Regions from separate parts of the Homo sapiens genome. Here region 2 is linked to region 1. The links come from fine-mapping of genetic effects on gene expression. A gene starts in region 1. The other region holds a variant in brackets. All regions are shown on one strand. Distances are between the middles of the regions. Region 1 holds the start of ALG6 (ALG6 alpha-1,3-glucosyltransferase). Region 2 has its middle 87 kb from the start of LINC01739.

What was found. PIP is the estimated chance that this variant, and not a neighbour inherited with it, causes the effect.
Region 2: its variant is fine-mapped to the expression of ALG6 in skeletal muscle (FUSION, PIP 0.95).

Annotation. Positions count from the first base shown.
Region 1 is chr1:63,362,688-63,371,028 of GRCh38, reverse strand. It overlaps ALG6 (ALG6 alpha-1,3-glucosyltransferase), which reads right to left and starts at 3,402. Exons shown (of 15, transcript NM_013339.4): 1 at 3,342-3,402; 2 at 1-258. The coding sequence starts at 51. RefSeq lists enhancers at 2,833-2,942, 3,803-3,942 and a silencer at 3,123-3,602.
Region 2 is chr1:63,095,135-63,103,475 of GRCh38, reverse strand. No RefSeq gene overlaps it. Among named protein-coding and RNA genes, the nearest start is that of LINC01739, 87 kb to the right of the region's middle. The variant A/G (reference allele first, on the strand shown) is at 3,994.

The DNA.
Region 1 (8,341 bases):
TACTGTTAGTCCTATTAAAACCACTACTGTCATCAAGTACCATTTCTCCATAGTTCTTCAAATTTAGGGAGGGGAAGAAAACACAGCACCAGTGCCAGAGTACTTTTAAAACGTGGTCAATCACTTCTTTTCTTGTTCAGAGAAATGTTATCACTTCTTGAAATGTTATCGATTCTTCGCAATTAGGAGTTTGAGAGAATTTTAATGATGCTTGGTTTCCAAATAGTCAAAACTTGATTATGTCTATGTAGAAGTATCCTAAGGGGAAAAAAAAAGATATCAAGATTCAGCTGAGTACAGTACCTACAACAATGAACCCAGTAAACCAAGTAGAAGGATAGAGAATTCGAGGGGAGGGGTAGTGGGAAGGAATGTGAAGGAAACGTGGTATTTTAAGTTCCTTATTCCCTAGTCCTTTAGTTGGGAATATACATCAAAAGGTGGATCTCCCTATTAAATGGGACTCAATACATCTAAAGATATAGTAAAGATTTACTCTCACAAGGGAATATTTCTGAGAAAAGAAAAACAACACATATGTAGATAATGACACAGTCAATTCTATTTAGAACACATTCACCTACAGGTAAATATAAAACCACAACCGTAGACAAAGGCATGATTTATCTTTGGTACAGCGAGAAAGAGGAATCTTGTCTTTGTATTTAGTTTGGGAAAGTCTTCCAATAAACAATTTATCTAGTTTGGTTTTTACTTTTCTTCCAAAATATACTTGCATTAACCACACCAACTTTCCATCTTAGAGAAATGAGCCTTTTTAAGAATCATTAAGAATAATCCCAAATCGTGAGAAAAAAATACAAAAGCAGTAAAACTCAATTAACCACTTACTTTTTTTTTTTTTTTACAGTTTTCCTTAGGTTGGGGTTTTAAAGTAAGAAGCAAATTGATGCCGGTTGCGGTGGCTCACGCCTGTAATCCCAGCACTTTGGGAAGCCGAGGTGGGCAGATCACCTGAGGTCAGGAGTTCAAGACCAGCCTGACCAACATGGTGAAACCCCATCTCTACTAAAAATACAAAATTAGCCAGGTATGGTGGCGCTCGCCTGTGATCCCAGCTATTTGGAAGGCTGAGGCAGGAGAATCGCTTCAACCCAGGAGGTGAAGGTTGCAGTGAGCCGAGATCGCACCATTGCACTCCAGCCTGGGCAACAAGAGCGAAACTCCATCTCAAACAAAAAAAAATAAAAAGCAAATCGACAAAATTGACATTTTCCTCTTCTCTTTGAAAAATGTTGGACCATTTTAACCACAGGATACACTTTAAATATATTCAGAAAATATAATAAATCAACTAAAAAATTTAGGGCAAAATTGGTACATTCCACCTAATGATCTAAAATTATTTTATTTTATTTGTTTTTTTTTCTTTTTTTTTGAGATGGAGCTTTGCTCTTGTTGCCCAGGCTGGAGTACAATGGCACAATATCGGCTCACCGCAACCTCTGCCTCCTGGGTTCAAGCGATTGTCTTCCCTCAGCCTCCCAGGTAGTTGGGATTACAGGCACCCACCACCACGCCTGGCTAATTTTTGTATTGTTAGTAGAGACGGGGTTTCACCAGATTGGCCAGGCTGATCTTGAACTCCTGACCTCAGGTGATCCACCCTCCTTGGTCTCCCAAAGTGCTGGGATTACAGGCGTGAGCCACTGCACCCGGCCCTAATTATTTTCTTATTTAAAATAAAAACATCACGGGATAACTCCAGAACTGATTGGAATGGCTAATCTTTTGTCATTGATGCCAAATCTCAAATCATCCCCTCAGAAAGATCATCCCTGACTATCCTACTAAAGCTTCCTCCCCTTACTGTTTGTATCATTACCTTCAATTTGCTTCCTAATTCTTTTCACTAACAGGATTTGTATTTTCACATGACATGGTGCAATCTCACACACATAATTTTCAGTATAAATGCTGGACACCAAAGAATACATATCATATGGTTCCATGAAAGGTTCATAAATAGGCAAAACTAATCTATGGTGTTAAAAATCAGGAAAGAGGTTACCTTTGGGGAGGAAAGAAGGGATGGTGGTTGGGAGGGGTGCCCAGAGAGGTGTTCTGAAATGCTGTGAATCTTCCTTCTTGATTTGAGTAGTGGTTAGGAAATGTGTTGACTTTAGGATAAATTAACAAGTTACAACTTATAATTTGCGTACAGTATTTTTCTATATGGTATATTCCAATTTAAAAAGCATAAAAGGGGCTGGGCGCAGTGGTTCACCCCTGTAATCCCAGCACTTTGGGAGGCCGAGGCAGGTGGATCACCTGAGGTCAGGAGTTCGAGACCAGCCTGGTCAACATGGTGAAACCCCATCTCTACTAAAAATACAAAAATTAGCTGGGCGTGGTGGTGCGTTCCTGTAATCCCAGCTACTCGTGAGGCTGAGGCAGGAAAATCGCTCGAACCCGGGAGGCAGAGGTTGCAGTGAGCCAAGATCGTGCCACTGCACTCCAGCCTGGGCGACAGAGCAAGACTCTGTCTCAATTAAAAAAAAAAAAAGTGTAAAAGGAAATTACTTGGATGTGTTGACTAAAGGCTCCCTGTGAGCAGGGATCCTCCTGTCTTAGTCGTTGCTCTCTGTTCCCCACTTGTAGAACAGTGTTAGCAGAAGGCAGGTACCCAAGAAGTATTTGCTGAATGGAGCTGTGTGCGTCTGTGTGTACGAAGCGGGGAGGTACCCTAATTTTACTGAGCCCTGTGTGGTTAAAGATATTATGCGAGGCTTTTAACGACTCTCTTCTGCTTAAACCAGAAAAAGGGTTATTTGCGACTTTTTCCACCTGTAAATCAGAAAACAGTAATTTTCTAACCCATCCACTGGCCACGAAGTTGCTAGGCAGGCAGTAGATGCGCTTTTCGTCCTCCTTTGCCCTGACGGTGCATCTCGACAAATGCCAAGCCCGCCGTCCCCATCCCAGAACCGACTTTGCTCCTTTTAGTCTGAAAGGTCCTTCCACCGCAGTGGACACAACACCGGGGAGTGCAGCTATCCCGGGCGTGTATATGGGGCGAAAGGGATCCCTTCTCGCGTTTCTCCGCCCCTCCTCTTGAGGGCCAGGCCCTCAGAACCGCAAGGACAAGGGTGCCAGGACCGCCCCAGCCTGCAAGTGCCACCACTATCACCGCGTCCCCTCACCCGACCCACAAGCGACCCTGCAGGAAGGGCTGGGGAGGCCTCGCGTCGCGTCCCTGGGAGTGGAGCGGAGCTGGGAGACGGGTCGCCAGCTCTGCGCCGGCTCGTGGCGCGTCCGAGCCCCCGGCACCTCCCCACACTGGCCTGGGGTCCGGAACCTCCGGGATCCCATGCTCTTACCCCGCCGCCCGCCGGCCGCTGGGATTCGCGCCTGCCGTGGGTCCCAGGAAGGCGCATGCGCGCTCGCCCCCGCGGCGGACTGCCCCTCCGGCCTTCCGCCTCCGTGTGCCCGCGCACCACCCGCGCGCCCGGTGCGGGAGCGAGCCCGTCGAGCGTGAGGGGAGGGGCGGGCAACCTGGCCTGGACAGGAGGCGGCCGGCTTAGGAGGCGGGGCAAGAGCCGATGGAACCCGAGAGGTCCCCAGCCCCGGGTTAGGCTAGGGGCAGGTGGAAAGCCCCTTGCTCTTCTTTCCTGGGATCGTGGCCAAGGCCGGAGCGGCTGCTTAGCCAACGGATTCCTGTCAGGGGCGGGCCCTGGCTTGCTGCACTGAGCAGAGAGCCTTGGCCGGTCCTCACCACCTCTGGGCCTGTGCCCTCGAGGAGCCAGAAAGCCAACCTGCTTCACTTTCTTCTAGCCACATGCCTGCGAAGAAGAAGACTGGGCAGCCCCCTAAAGTAAGAAACATTGAACATCCAACCATTTGCGAGAGCCTGTGCGTTGTGCAAAAGGACAGCCCTGCCCTCGAGTAGCCACTACACGTGCCCCAGCGGGCAGCTTGAATCACCTGGTCCCAAACTTGCCAAAAATACCTATCTAGTAAGTTAGTAAGACCTGCACACTTTTCCTTTTGCATTGATCCCTTCCTTTCCAGTTCCACTATTTCCATCTCAGTCTAGGCTTCTGTCCAATCACGCATGGACGGCTGTGATGATTTTTACTTGCCTTCCTTTGTTCAGAGAGTGCCCTCATTCCCCACTTCTGAATCTTGCCATTCTACGTAAGCCAACCCCTATAATTTGTAAGTGTTAGCAAATATTTGGCTAGGACTATGGCTTTCTACTGAGTCTGAATAACTTCTCTCTGGGCCTCAGTTTCTTCAACTGTGAAAGAAATCAGTAGGGCTAGGTGAACTTCCAGGTCTAAAATATGATTATATCTAAAAGACCATCAGCACTGGGAATATGGAGAAATATGGCAGGTCCCTGCCCTCAAGGCATTTAATTCTCATTGGAAAGACATTTTTATGCATAAAAGGATAAAAAGCTATAGAAGGAAACACATACTAAATGTTACATTACTTACATATGCACTAAGCACTGTAGGAGTTAGGAGAAGAGGGTTCACTGTAAACTGCAAACCATCAGGAAATGCTTTTCCTGGAGGAGTCAGCTGAGCTTTGAAGGAAAGCCTGGCTGGATAAGCCCAGAGAATGAGAGTAAGAATCTAGACAAAGGAAATGGTTCAAGCCAAATATTGTGGCAGCTGAAAAGTGTAGAACATTTCCTCTAGTTTAGGTGGTGGGTGATGAAGCTGGAAAGGACTGGTAATTGTAGAGAGCCTTGAATACCAGGCTATGGTGTCTGGAATGTATCCAGTGATCAGTAAGGGGCTATTAAATGACTTTTAGCAGGGAGTCAAGTATACAGTACAGTTACAGTGTTAGAGAAAACTTAAAGTGGTGAAAATGGATCAGATGAATCAGAGGGAGACTATAGCAGTCCACGCATGATTAGACAAGGGCTTGGACTGAGATGGCAATAGTGGAACTGCAAAGGGAGAGATCAATGCAAGAAGAAACATGTACAGGTCTTTTTTTTTTTTTTCTGAGACGCAGTTTCGCTCTTGTTCTCTTGTTGCCCAGGCTGGGGAGCAATGGCACGATCTCGGCTCACCACAACCTCCACCTCCCGGGTTCAAGCAATTCTCCTGCCTCAGCCTCCCGAGTAGCTGGGATTACAGGCATGCACCACCACACCTGGCTAATTTTGTATGTTTAGTAGACATAGGGTTTCTCTGTGTTGGTCAGGCTAGTCTCGAACTCCTGACCTCAGGTGATCTGCCTGCCTCGGCCTCCCAAAGTGCTGGGATTACAGGCGTGAGCTGCTGCACCTGGCCTCGTGTACAGGTCTTAATAGCATACTAGATATGTACAAGTGAAACAAAGGAGAGGGAAGAATCAAGGATGGCTCCCAAGGTTTCAAGTGTGCATTACAGTTCCCAAGAACTGATAGATCTTGGGAAGCCTGGAGAATAATCTGGCTTGGAGGGAAAGATGGTTCATTGTATTGAGTTCACGGTAACATAAAGACAAGAAAGTTGTAATACTCAGGTGTCAGTTATGAATCAGAGCCCAGGAAAGAAATTGGGGTGAAGATAGAGAGATGAAAGTGTTTCATTTGCTGAATAATGATGGAGACAGTATAGAGAGAAAATAAACAACCATACTTGAATAAATGCATTATCTCAGGCCAAAAGGAGAAAGGCACATTGGTGAAGGATGTTACATGGTTACAAATGTAGGGAGAAATCCATTACATTGCAGGATCATAAATATTAAGCATCTGGTGAACAAGAACCATGTTTGGCAGACCAAAAATCATACTTTATTGAATCTAAAGTTCCACCACTTGTAAAAAGCACCATTATTTTATGTACCACTGAGGAAGAAAACAATGCTACCATTTAAGCTAGTAATTACTGTAAAACATATAATTTCAGAAATATTAATATGTAAAAAGTATACATCTTAAAGTGATGGAAGTTGGTATCAATCTCTCCTTCCTGTTTCTCAACCCAACAGCTTCTGACCCAGTATTTAACAAAAAGTTAATGCTCAAAATGTTCATGAATAAATAGCGGAAGAGACATCACAGTCACTAACTCATAGCTGAATTGTCTCACCACTGCCATCTATATACCTTCTCCTGCTCTTTACCTTCAATAGGTATCATCTTTCACATGTGAATATCCAGTGCCTTTACATAACAGATGTTCAGAAAATGCATTTTGAATGATAGCATTTACTATAAGCAAAAAGGATAAGCCATAGCAAAATTGTAAAGCAGATCAAGTTTAGAGGCAGTGTAGAAAGGTGATTAAGAACTAGTCTCTGACTCTGAAAACAAACAGGTTTGGATTTAAATCTTAGTTCTTCTACTTTCTAGCTGTGTGAACTTGGTAAAGTCTCCTAATGTCTCTGGCATAATTACTTCACCTACAAAAAAAAAAGAATTAATAATAATGTCATCTTCTTTGAATTTTAATGAGAGTAAAATGAAATCATGCATATAAAACTTGAATATACTGCCTGGCATATAGTATGCAATCAATAAATAATAGCTATTATCATTTGTCTTTAACATGTGCTCACTTTTTCATAGCCTTTCTTTGAAGTGTCTTCTTCCTCCTACCATATAGCAGCCCATACATATATATATTTGCATCCCCACCAGAAGCCTACTGTTCTTATCTGAAAATTTTCTCTGAAACCACGACCAGACACAGTATCTCACAGCTGTAATCCCAGCACTTTGGGAGGCTGAGGCAGGCAGATCCTTTGAGCCCAGGAGTTGAAGACCAGACTGAGCAACATGGCGAAACCCTGTCTCTACAAAAAGTATATAAAAATTAGCCAGGTGTGGTGGTGTGCTTATGTAGTCCCAGCTACTCAGGAGGTTGAGATGGGAGGATCACTTGAGCCCAGGGAGGTTGAGGCTGCAGTGAACCATGATTGCACCAATGCACTCTAGCCTGAGTGACAGAGCACAACCCTGTCTCAAAAAAATAAAAAAAAATTATCTGAAATCAAATTACACTAATGTATAATCCATCTTAAAAGTTGTTGGCTGGGCGCAATGGCTCACGTCTGTAATCCCAGCACTTTGGGAGGCCAAGGCGGGTGGATCACGAGGTCAGGAGATCGAGACCATCCCGGTTAACACAGTGAAACCCCGTCTGTACTAAAAATACAAAAAAAAAATTAGCCGGGCATGGTGGTGGGCGCCTGTAGTCCCAACTACTCGGGAGGCTGAGGCAGGAGAATGGCGTGAACCCGGGAGGAGGAGCTTGCAGTGAACCGAGATCGCGCCACTGCACTCCAGCCTGGGCAACACAGCAAGACTCCGTCTCAAAAAAAAAAAAAAAAGTTGTTGTTGCCCAGGCCCGCTGGCTCACGGCTGCAATCCCAGCACTTTGGGAGGCCGAGGCAGGCACATCACAAGGTCAGGAGATACGGTGAAACCCCATCGCTTCTAAAAATACAAAAAAAATTAGCCGGGCGTGGTGGTGGGTGCCTGTAGTCTCAGCTACTCGAGAGGCTGAGGCAGGAGAATGGTGTGAACCCGGGAGGCGGAGCTTGCAGTGAGCCGAGATCGCACCACTGCACTCCAGCCTGGGCGACAGAGCGAGACTCCATTGGGAAAAAAAAAGAAAAAAAAAGTTGGTGCATTTTAAAGGCAGATGGGAAAGAATATGAAATGAATACTATTAATCTCTAAAGTCAGTTTGACTAATAGGTGATGGCTTCAATTATCTACTGCTGTGTAACAAATTACTCCAAAATTTAGCGGCTTATATAGCAATGATTTTATTTGCTCATGTTTCTATGGATCAAGAATCTAGGCAGGGTTCAGGTAGGTGGTTCATCTGTTCCACTGGGATTGTCTGAGGTCACTCATGAGGCTGCATTCAGCTGGGAGATCAGCTCAGGCTGAAACATCCGTGAACAGCTTCAGCCCTCTCTCCACAGGGCTTCTCTCTTCAGAAAGTTTCGCAAACTTTTTACACGGCAGCTCACTTCCCAGAGAGAGCATTCCAAGCGGCAAAGGCAAAAGTTGCAGATCTCTTACACCCCAGCCTTACAAGTCACACAGCAACCTAGCCATGATACAAGGAGAGTGGAAATAGATTCTGCCTCTCAGTGGGAAGGTAGGAAAGAATTTCCGGCCATCTGTAATCCACTACAGAAAAGTTGGGATGAAACTAGAAATGGGCAAGAGCCCAACTAACAATTTTATTTCTCACCAGCCAAAAAATCAGAGTTCAAATCCCCTTACTTACTTGTCTTTCTGCCATGTCTTTTGCAAAAGGAGCAACCTCTGGTGGCCATTTCATGTATGTAGAGTAAAGATAATCTCATGGTACAAATTGCATATAACTTGTTTTGGCCTGAATTGTAGCCC
Region 2 (8,341 bases), 270 kb after region 1:
ACAATCAACTCTCTGTTCATTGGCAAGGCTAAATTAGTGAATGATCCATTGAGATAATGATAGGAAGCCACTTTCTAAGCTGACATTTGATATGCAAAGATAACATAGTGATGCCTTAACAGACTAGAATTATTTTTCCAATTAGTCAAAAGTTTGTTGAGTGGCACATGGCACATGTATACATATGTAACAAACCTGCACGCTGTGAACATGTACCCTAGAACTTAAAGTATAATAAAAAAAAGTTTGTTGAGTGGCTACAATATGCAAGACATGTACGATGTCTAAGAAGACACCTGTGATTACTGTCAAGCTGATTAAAATATGGTTGAGGAGCAATTATCTACATATATGTTGTACACACAGACGTATACATTTGAAAAACAATTACTATTGAATTAAACATTAAACTATATCCTAACCACATTGACCTTTCTGTCCCAGAAGATGTCACATCCCTTTCCAACATAGAGTCTTCATAAATGCTAATCTTTATTCATTTATTCAATTTTTATTGCTTGATTACTTTGTGTCAGGCACACAAGATTCTGATTCTCATGGAACTTATTTTCTAGTTGGCAAAAAGAAACATAAACAAGTAAGCAAGTCATCAGGCACTGAGAAATGCTCTGAGTTAACCAGTACATTGAGATATGGTAGATGGTGACTGGTGGAGTAGGAGTGGGGCTGCATCCAATATGGTGGATGGGGTAGGCTTCTAGGAGCAGGACATGTCAAACTGAGATCTAGATGATGGAACCAGTTACGTAAAGAGCTGGGATAACAGCATTCCAAGCAGAGGGAATAACAAATGCAAAAGCCTCATAAGATAGGAACAAATTTGACGTATTTTAAAAATAGAATACTAGTGGAACTGAGAAGAGTGACTGAAGGGAGACTGGTAAGAGATGAGGTCACAAGGAAGCTAGGACCAAGTCACAGAGCCTTGCAGGCCATGATAGGGTTTGCTGCTCCTATGCCTGGAATGACCTGGCCCCTACTCTCTGCTTAAAGCTGGTGCCCTTCCTTTGCTTAAATGTCACCTGCTCATGGAAGTCTTCCTTTATGCCCTGTCTAGAATAATGTCATGTATTATTTGCTCTCTTAACATACTGTGCTTCTTTTTTGAAGCACTTAATACAATTGAAAGTAATTATTAGTGTAATTATTTGTTTGATACTTGTTATCCAAAGTAGACTGTCAGTCCCTTGGGGGTAGAGACTGGTTTATCTGGCTCACTGCAATGGGAAGAATTAAATGCATTTGGCAAACATTTATTAACTTTTACTATATGCCAGATATGGAGAAGATGCTCCATAAATATATTGATGCAATGAAAGAATGAATTAACACAGGTAAAGCAAGTGACTGGGAGGCAATGGCTAAAGCAACTATAAAACAACTGTACCTTAATTAGTTGTTTAATACATTGCCCACTGCCGCAGCCCACTTTGCCCATGAGGTTGTAGAAGGTTCCATAAGATGGCCAACGAGAGAATATGTCTTACTCAGAGCTGGAGTTGGTGAGCAGTGGTTCCATTCTTTTCTTGAAGGCTTTAATTACCTGTTCTCAGTTCTGAATGGGTGTTAGCTATTTCCTTTTCTAAGCTTTTTTCTTGTCAATCTTCTTTCCTCCTTTTCCTCTAAATCAGTAAGCAAGGTGTGGGGAGTGGCTGGTATGAAAGCATGAGAATGGGGATCATGGAGGGAGTTCATGTCAGCTCTTTATTTTTTTCTGTATGCCATGATTTGCACTATATTGTAGATAAAGGTTTATTAATTGTATCAACATTTTTACTATGTTATCAGATATGACATAGCTTTATATACCCAAGAGTCATGCTGAATAGCCAAGTGAATTAGGCTTAGAAAAAAATCGTGTCTCAATGTGGAGGCTGCTCATGTGGAAATGAACAGGATGTGTCATCCTTGCGATGGATCAAGAGGCCAAGGTGCTGAGAATAAGCACTGGACCAAGAATCCAAAGACCCGGTTTCAACCCCAGGCTTTGTCATGTAGTGGCTGTGTGTCTCTATGCAAGTTAAGTAAGTTATTGGACTAATTGTTTTTGTAATCTGTGAAAGAAGACAATGTCTAATTCATAGAATTGCTAAGAAGATTAAGTGTGCTGGCCTATGATAGTTCCTGGTCCATACTAAGTTCAGACATAAATGTTTGCTGAATGAATAGAATACTTCCCAATGCATTATACTTTTTCTGGTTGATCCTGAGCTAGAATTCTTTCCATTCATTCATTCATTCATTCATTCAACGTATACATATGTTTGCTTAAGAAGGTTCAGAAACTGGTTTCCAAGCCACATTTTGAGAAATATATTTTTGGATTGGAAAAGAATGAGCTTTTGAAATCACTGAAGCAGGCAACACAATATAGTAGATAATAACAACAACAACTACTACCAGTTATTGTGAGCATACCAAGTGTCAAGCACTGGGAAAATGTTTTCCCCATGTGATCTCATTTATTCCTATTACAGCATCAGAGAAGGTAAGTAAGTTCCCAAGGTGGTCCAGTTAGTACATTGAGGGCTAGGATTTTAACCTAATTTTCAGGACTCCAAAGACTGTGTTCTTAATAGTTCTAATAATAACCTTCATCATGGGATTGTTATTGGGTCCAAATGATATACACCATATATAGACATGTTTTATAAACACTAAAGCTCTGTATAAATGTCCATTTACTATCATTATCAGAAAGTGATTGACCTGATGACATTCCACAGGGTCAACTGTGCTTCTGGAGGTAACTGAATGCCAGCTCTGTGTATATCTAAAAATTCTGATTATTTTATGCATTTTTTTTTTTTTGGCCTCTGTTTTATTCGAAGAACTGTTTTCTTTTCTCTACACCTGATCTTTCCAAATTAGATCTGTCGACAGGGTGGCTGAATGGTGAGTGGCTCTCCTGTGTCTTTCTAGGGATGCCCCTGCAGAGCCATGCCGAGGATAACTGAGGGAATTATGGAGAGCTGGCCACACTCTGCTTCTATTTGTTTTGAGCCTGGGAAACAGCAGCTGTCCTAAAATCACCCTGATTCAGAATTCTTCCAAACCAGAACACAGCAGATTCACAAGAATCAAGTGATAAAACTCACCACATTCTCATTTCAGAGGGGAGGAAAGAATCCCAAATGTAAATTTCAGTTCTCTGTGTTCCAAGTACCCCCCCTTCCATTCCCTGCCAACATCTTATTGGCATTCGACTTAAAAATGCATTTTCATTTTACATAATGGATTAATCACACCATGGATTTTTTCCTAATTCATGTCCTTAGGACATATATAATATCTGTTATCTAAGAAAATGTTTATTTGTTTTGTTCTATTGCCCAATAAGCTTATTATAAGTTCAGGCTAGTGTGTGTGTGTGTGTGTGTGTGTGTGTGTGTGTGTGTGTTTACACAGAGAATGTACCACATTAAAACCAGGAAAAATTATCTTTTAAATTATTCCTTGATGTAGAGCAAATCAATCCAGTTTCTTATACCTACTGGAGAAGCACAAATGGTGCTGGAACATCTTCAGAGTGGTTTATGCCCTTGGCAGGTCAATCAGAGGGTAGCTGAAACTGAAGAAGTCATACGCCATGGTGCCAGCGGAAATGAAAATTATACCACTCATACTAACGAGTGCATTTCCAAAGGGACTATTTAGCGGTATTAGAAGTCTCTAAGCAGATGCCTCTGAACTTAAAATACACTTAATTCCTAAGAATTGTCTTGTAATTAATTTACCCAGATAGACTCAATGAGGAGAATGTAGGGCAAAGCACCACATTGCTCAGCAGTTTGCAAACTTCAGGGAACACTAAGATAAATAATTTGATTTTTTTAAACTTCTAAATTCATTTCCCTTATAACTGAGAAACAGGAATGGCATACAGTAAAGAAAAGCACTTTCTGATTCTATAATATAATCTCCTTAAAAAAATTCTTACTACTGTAACAGGAAGGATTCCATGGAGCTGAC[A/G]TCAAAAGAATATCACTCATGCTTTGGATATAGCTTTTATGCCTATTAACTTGTCTGTCTGTAAACATTTCATTGAACGTGGGAAGCTAGCTCCTGACTGTTTTAGTTATACACACAGTGCTGTACAGCAACAAACAGCTTTAACATACCTCCCATTAACACAGCTTGTATTTCATGAAGAACAGCCAGGTCTCATGTGACTGCTAACAGCTGTATTTTTCTAGTATTGAGGAATCTAATTTAAAAAGTGTTCAGATTTTTTCGAGGTTTTGGTAAAAATTTGATAAAACAGTTCTATCTCTGGAGGTTAAAGGTACAGTGGTGTGATCTTTGGATGGGCCACTATATCAATGGGGAGGTTCTTTTGTCAAGCCTTTTGGGTTTTTTTTTTTTTTTTCTAGCAGCTTAGACTTTGGACCCACTTGGATCAGAGTCCCAGTCTGGTTCTCTCTTTGACCTTAAGGAAACTTCTTAACCTATATAGGACTCAGTTTAATTACTTATTAAAATAAAATGATGATAATGATAACAATAGGTGGCATTTGAAGGATGGGGAGGTAATGTACATAATTTACCCTAAATAGTGCCTGGTACAGACTCTATAGGTAGTAGTTTATTATTACCATCTGCTTTTACACCAGGTCAGCTTACTCATTTATTCTATCCCTTAAAAGATATTTATCACACACTTCCTCTGTGCCCTGCAGTGTGCATGGCGTTTTTACATATCTCATATCAACCTTATGAGTAGGTTTCATGATCACCATTTCATAGATGCAAATACTGAAGCTCGAAAGGTTAAGGAATGTGCTCAAGGTCATATAGCTGGTAAGGAATGCAGCCAGAGTTGGCACCCACGTCCACCTTTAATAAACCCATATTCGTGTTTACTAGGCATGAAGCACCAAACTAGGCACTAGGGAGACTGAGATGAATGAGACATGCCTCCTCCACTTCCAAAAACATCACCTTCTATTTGGGGTTGAACAGAGCAGAGGGAGCACCAAATAAGCCAGACCATGACAAATTCTATCATTGTGGTATGAAAGAGATGTTCAGGATCATCACAGAGTATGTAACTAACGACGGGAGAAACTGGGAAGGAGGTCACACAGGAGGTGACTTTTGGAGCTGGATCTGGAAAAATGAATGAGATTTAACAGATAAAGAAGGCAATTCCTTGTAGAGGGAATCTGCTACACAAGGCATGAAGGCTTGGGGTATTTGAAGGATGTTGAGGAATCCTGAGTTTACATCCCCACCTCGTGTCCAGTGACACTGGGCTGGTCATTCTCCTTTCGTTTCTTTCCATCTTTCCTTCCTTTCCATCTTTCGTTCCTTTCCATCTTTCCTTCCTTCCTTCTTTTCTTTCTTTTTTTTTTATTATTATACTTTAAGTTTTAGGGTACATGTGCACATTGTGCAGGTTAGTTACATACGTATACATGTGCCATGCTGGTGCGCTGCACCCACTAACTCATCATCTAGCATTAGGTATATCTCTCCATGCTATCCCTCCCCCCTCCCCCATCCTTCTTTTCCTTCTTTCTTTCTTTCTTTCTTTTTCTCTTTCTTTCTTTCTTTCTTTGTTTCTTTCTTTCTTTCTTTCCTTCTTTCTTTCTTCTTTCTTTCTTTCTTTCTTTCTTTCTTTCTCAGTGTCTCACTGTGTCACCCAGGCTGGAGTGCAGTGGTGCAATCATGGCTCACTGCAGCCTCCAATTCCCAGGCTCAATGATCCTCCCACCTCAGCCTCCTAAGTAGCTGGAACTACAGGTGCACATCACCACACCCGGGTAACTTTTGTATTTTTTGGAGAGATGGGGTTTCCCCATGTTGCCCAGGCTGTTCTTGAACTCCTCAGCTCAAGTGATCCACCTGCCTTGGCTTCCCAAAGTGCTGGGATTACAGGCATGAGTCACTGCACCCAGCAGTTATCCACCTTTCTGCCCCTCCATCTGTTGGAATAAAAACACCGGGTGACTATGGAGATCAAAAGATGAGTGCATAGAAAGCATGTAGCACAGTACCTGGTACAATAAAACTGAGCTGCTGTTTTATACCTCGATGTCTTTGCTCATACTGTTCCCTCATGCCGTAGTGTATCACCACCTTCTGAGACCTCCCACCTCAGCTAACTTCTCACCCACTTACTTCCTCTCATTATGGCTCAGCAGAGGGCTAATATGCCCTGGAACGGTGCTTCTCACCTTTGGTGTATAAGCAAATCATCTGGGCATCCTGTTGCCCAGTGCAGATTCTGATTTGGCAGGTCTGGAGTGGGGCTGGCTTTCTCACAAGCCTCCAGCTGCTGCTGCTGCTGCTGGTTGCAGGACCACACTTGAAGGAGTAGGGCACTACACAGTGTTTCCCAGAGTGGCATCTGCATTTCTAGCAAGCTTCCAGTAATGCCAGATCTACTGGTCCACAGACTATACTTTGATGAGTGAGTCTAAAGCACCATATCAATGTCCATTTTTCAGAGTCCTTCAATGAGCAGAGCTTCACCTTTCTTTCCACTCTTTTCTTCTCCTTCACAGAATGATCCGTTCCAGCCAAACTGGACTCATTTGTGTTTTCCTGAGTGCACTGTCTGCACTGCTCTGGACAGCTGTACTTGAACCCTGACCTTCTCTGTGACCCACAGAGGCCTGTGCACACCTCCATCATGGCACTTACCACGCTGTGTTGAAATCCATATTTACATGTCTGTCTCCACTTCCAGACTATTAGTCTACTAACTATAAGTTACAATCTATACTTTAATAATGACCACGTTACATTTTTACTATCAGTGATGTAGCAAGAAGGTGGGGTGTTGGGAACGGTCATTGTCTTCATATCCTAGGGCTGCCATAACAAAGTCCAACAAACTGGATGGCTTAAAACAATAGAAATTCCATTGTCTCATAATTCTGGAGGCTAGAAGTTTGAAATCAAGGTGTTGACAGGGTTGGCTCCTTTGGAAGGCACTGAGGGAGAATCTGTTCCCTGCTGCTCTCTTAGCTTCAGATGGTTGCTGGCAATCTTTGACATTTCTTGGCTTATAGACGTCTTATTCCAGTCTCTGTCCCTGTCATCACATGGCATTTTCTCCTTGTCTGTGTCTATCTCTGTTTCTTTTCCTCTTCTTCATTTGGAGAAATAAGACACCATTAAAAAATAGAGACACCAGTCATTGGATTAAGGACCCTGTCTATGCCAGTATGACCCCATCTTAACTAATTACATTTGCAACAACCCTTTTTCCAAATAAGGCCACATTCCAAAGTCCGGGGAAGGATGCACATTTTGAGGGGGACACTATTCAACCCAGTATAGTTGTCATTTAGAATTGCTACTGTATGGTGATAATAAGAAGTAAACCAAGATGTGGTCAGGTTTTTACATTTTCTGCAGATGACGCTTGTACCTGGGGTGGACCATTCCCATTGTCCATCCCCATCCCTTGGTATAGCATTGCCTTACTAATTCTTATAATATATGTCATCATACTTATTTTATTTTCACTGGAATAGTACAGAATTTATTTCTGAAGGCAGGTACTATTTATTTTTAAATTTGCCATGGGACATCGTGGCTACCCAAGGAATGTTTTTTGAACTGAACTATTGCCCAAGAATGCCATATCAAAGTACAGTAAACTTTAATGACTATTTCTCTGCCAGAATTGTAAGAATTAGGCTGGGCACAGTGGGCTCACTTCTGTAAGCCTAGTATTTGGGAGGCCAAGGCGGAAGGATTGCTTGAGACCAGGAGTTCAAAACCAGCCTGGGAAACATAACAAGATCCCATCTCTACAAAAAAGCTAAAAAATAAAAAACAGTTTTTTAAAGAATTAATTCCTTAAATCTCTACTTCACACCCATAGTGAAGATTTTAAAAGTACAGTCAAACATCACTTAACAACAGGGGTATCTTCAGAGAAATGCCTTGTTAGGTAATTTTATCATTTTGTAAACATCATAGAGTGTACTTACACAAACCTAGATGGAGTAGCTCACTACACATCTAGGCTGTATGGCACAGCATATTGCTCCTAGGCTACAAACCTAGACAGCACATTACTGTACTGAATACTGTAGGCAACTGTAACACAATGGTAAATATTTGTGTATCTAAATATATCTCAACGTAGAAAAGATACAGTGAAATATGATATGAAAGATTAAAAATGATATATATGTATAGGGTGGCTCCCCTGTCCATGTGCAGTCTGTCATTGATTGTTACGTAGTGCATGACTGTAATTGGAGTCGTAATAGTTGATATTTTAAGGAGGTGTAGGATAATTCTATTTCAGTCTATGGAAAGATTAGGCTCTTCTAAAACCCAGAAGTATTTCCAACAA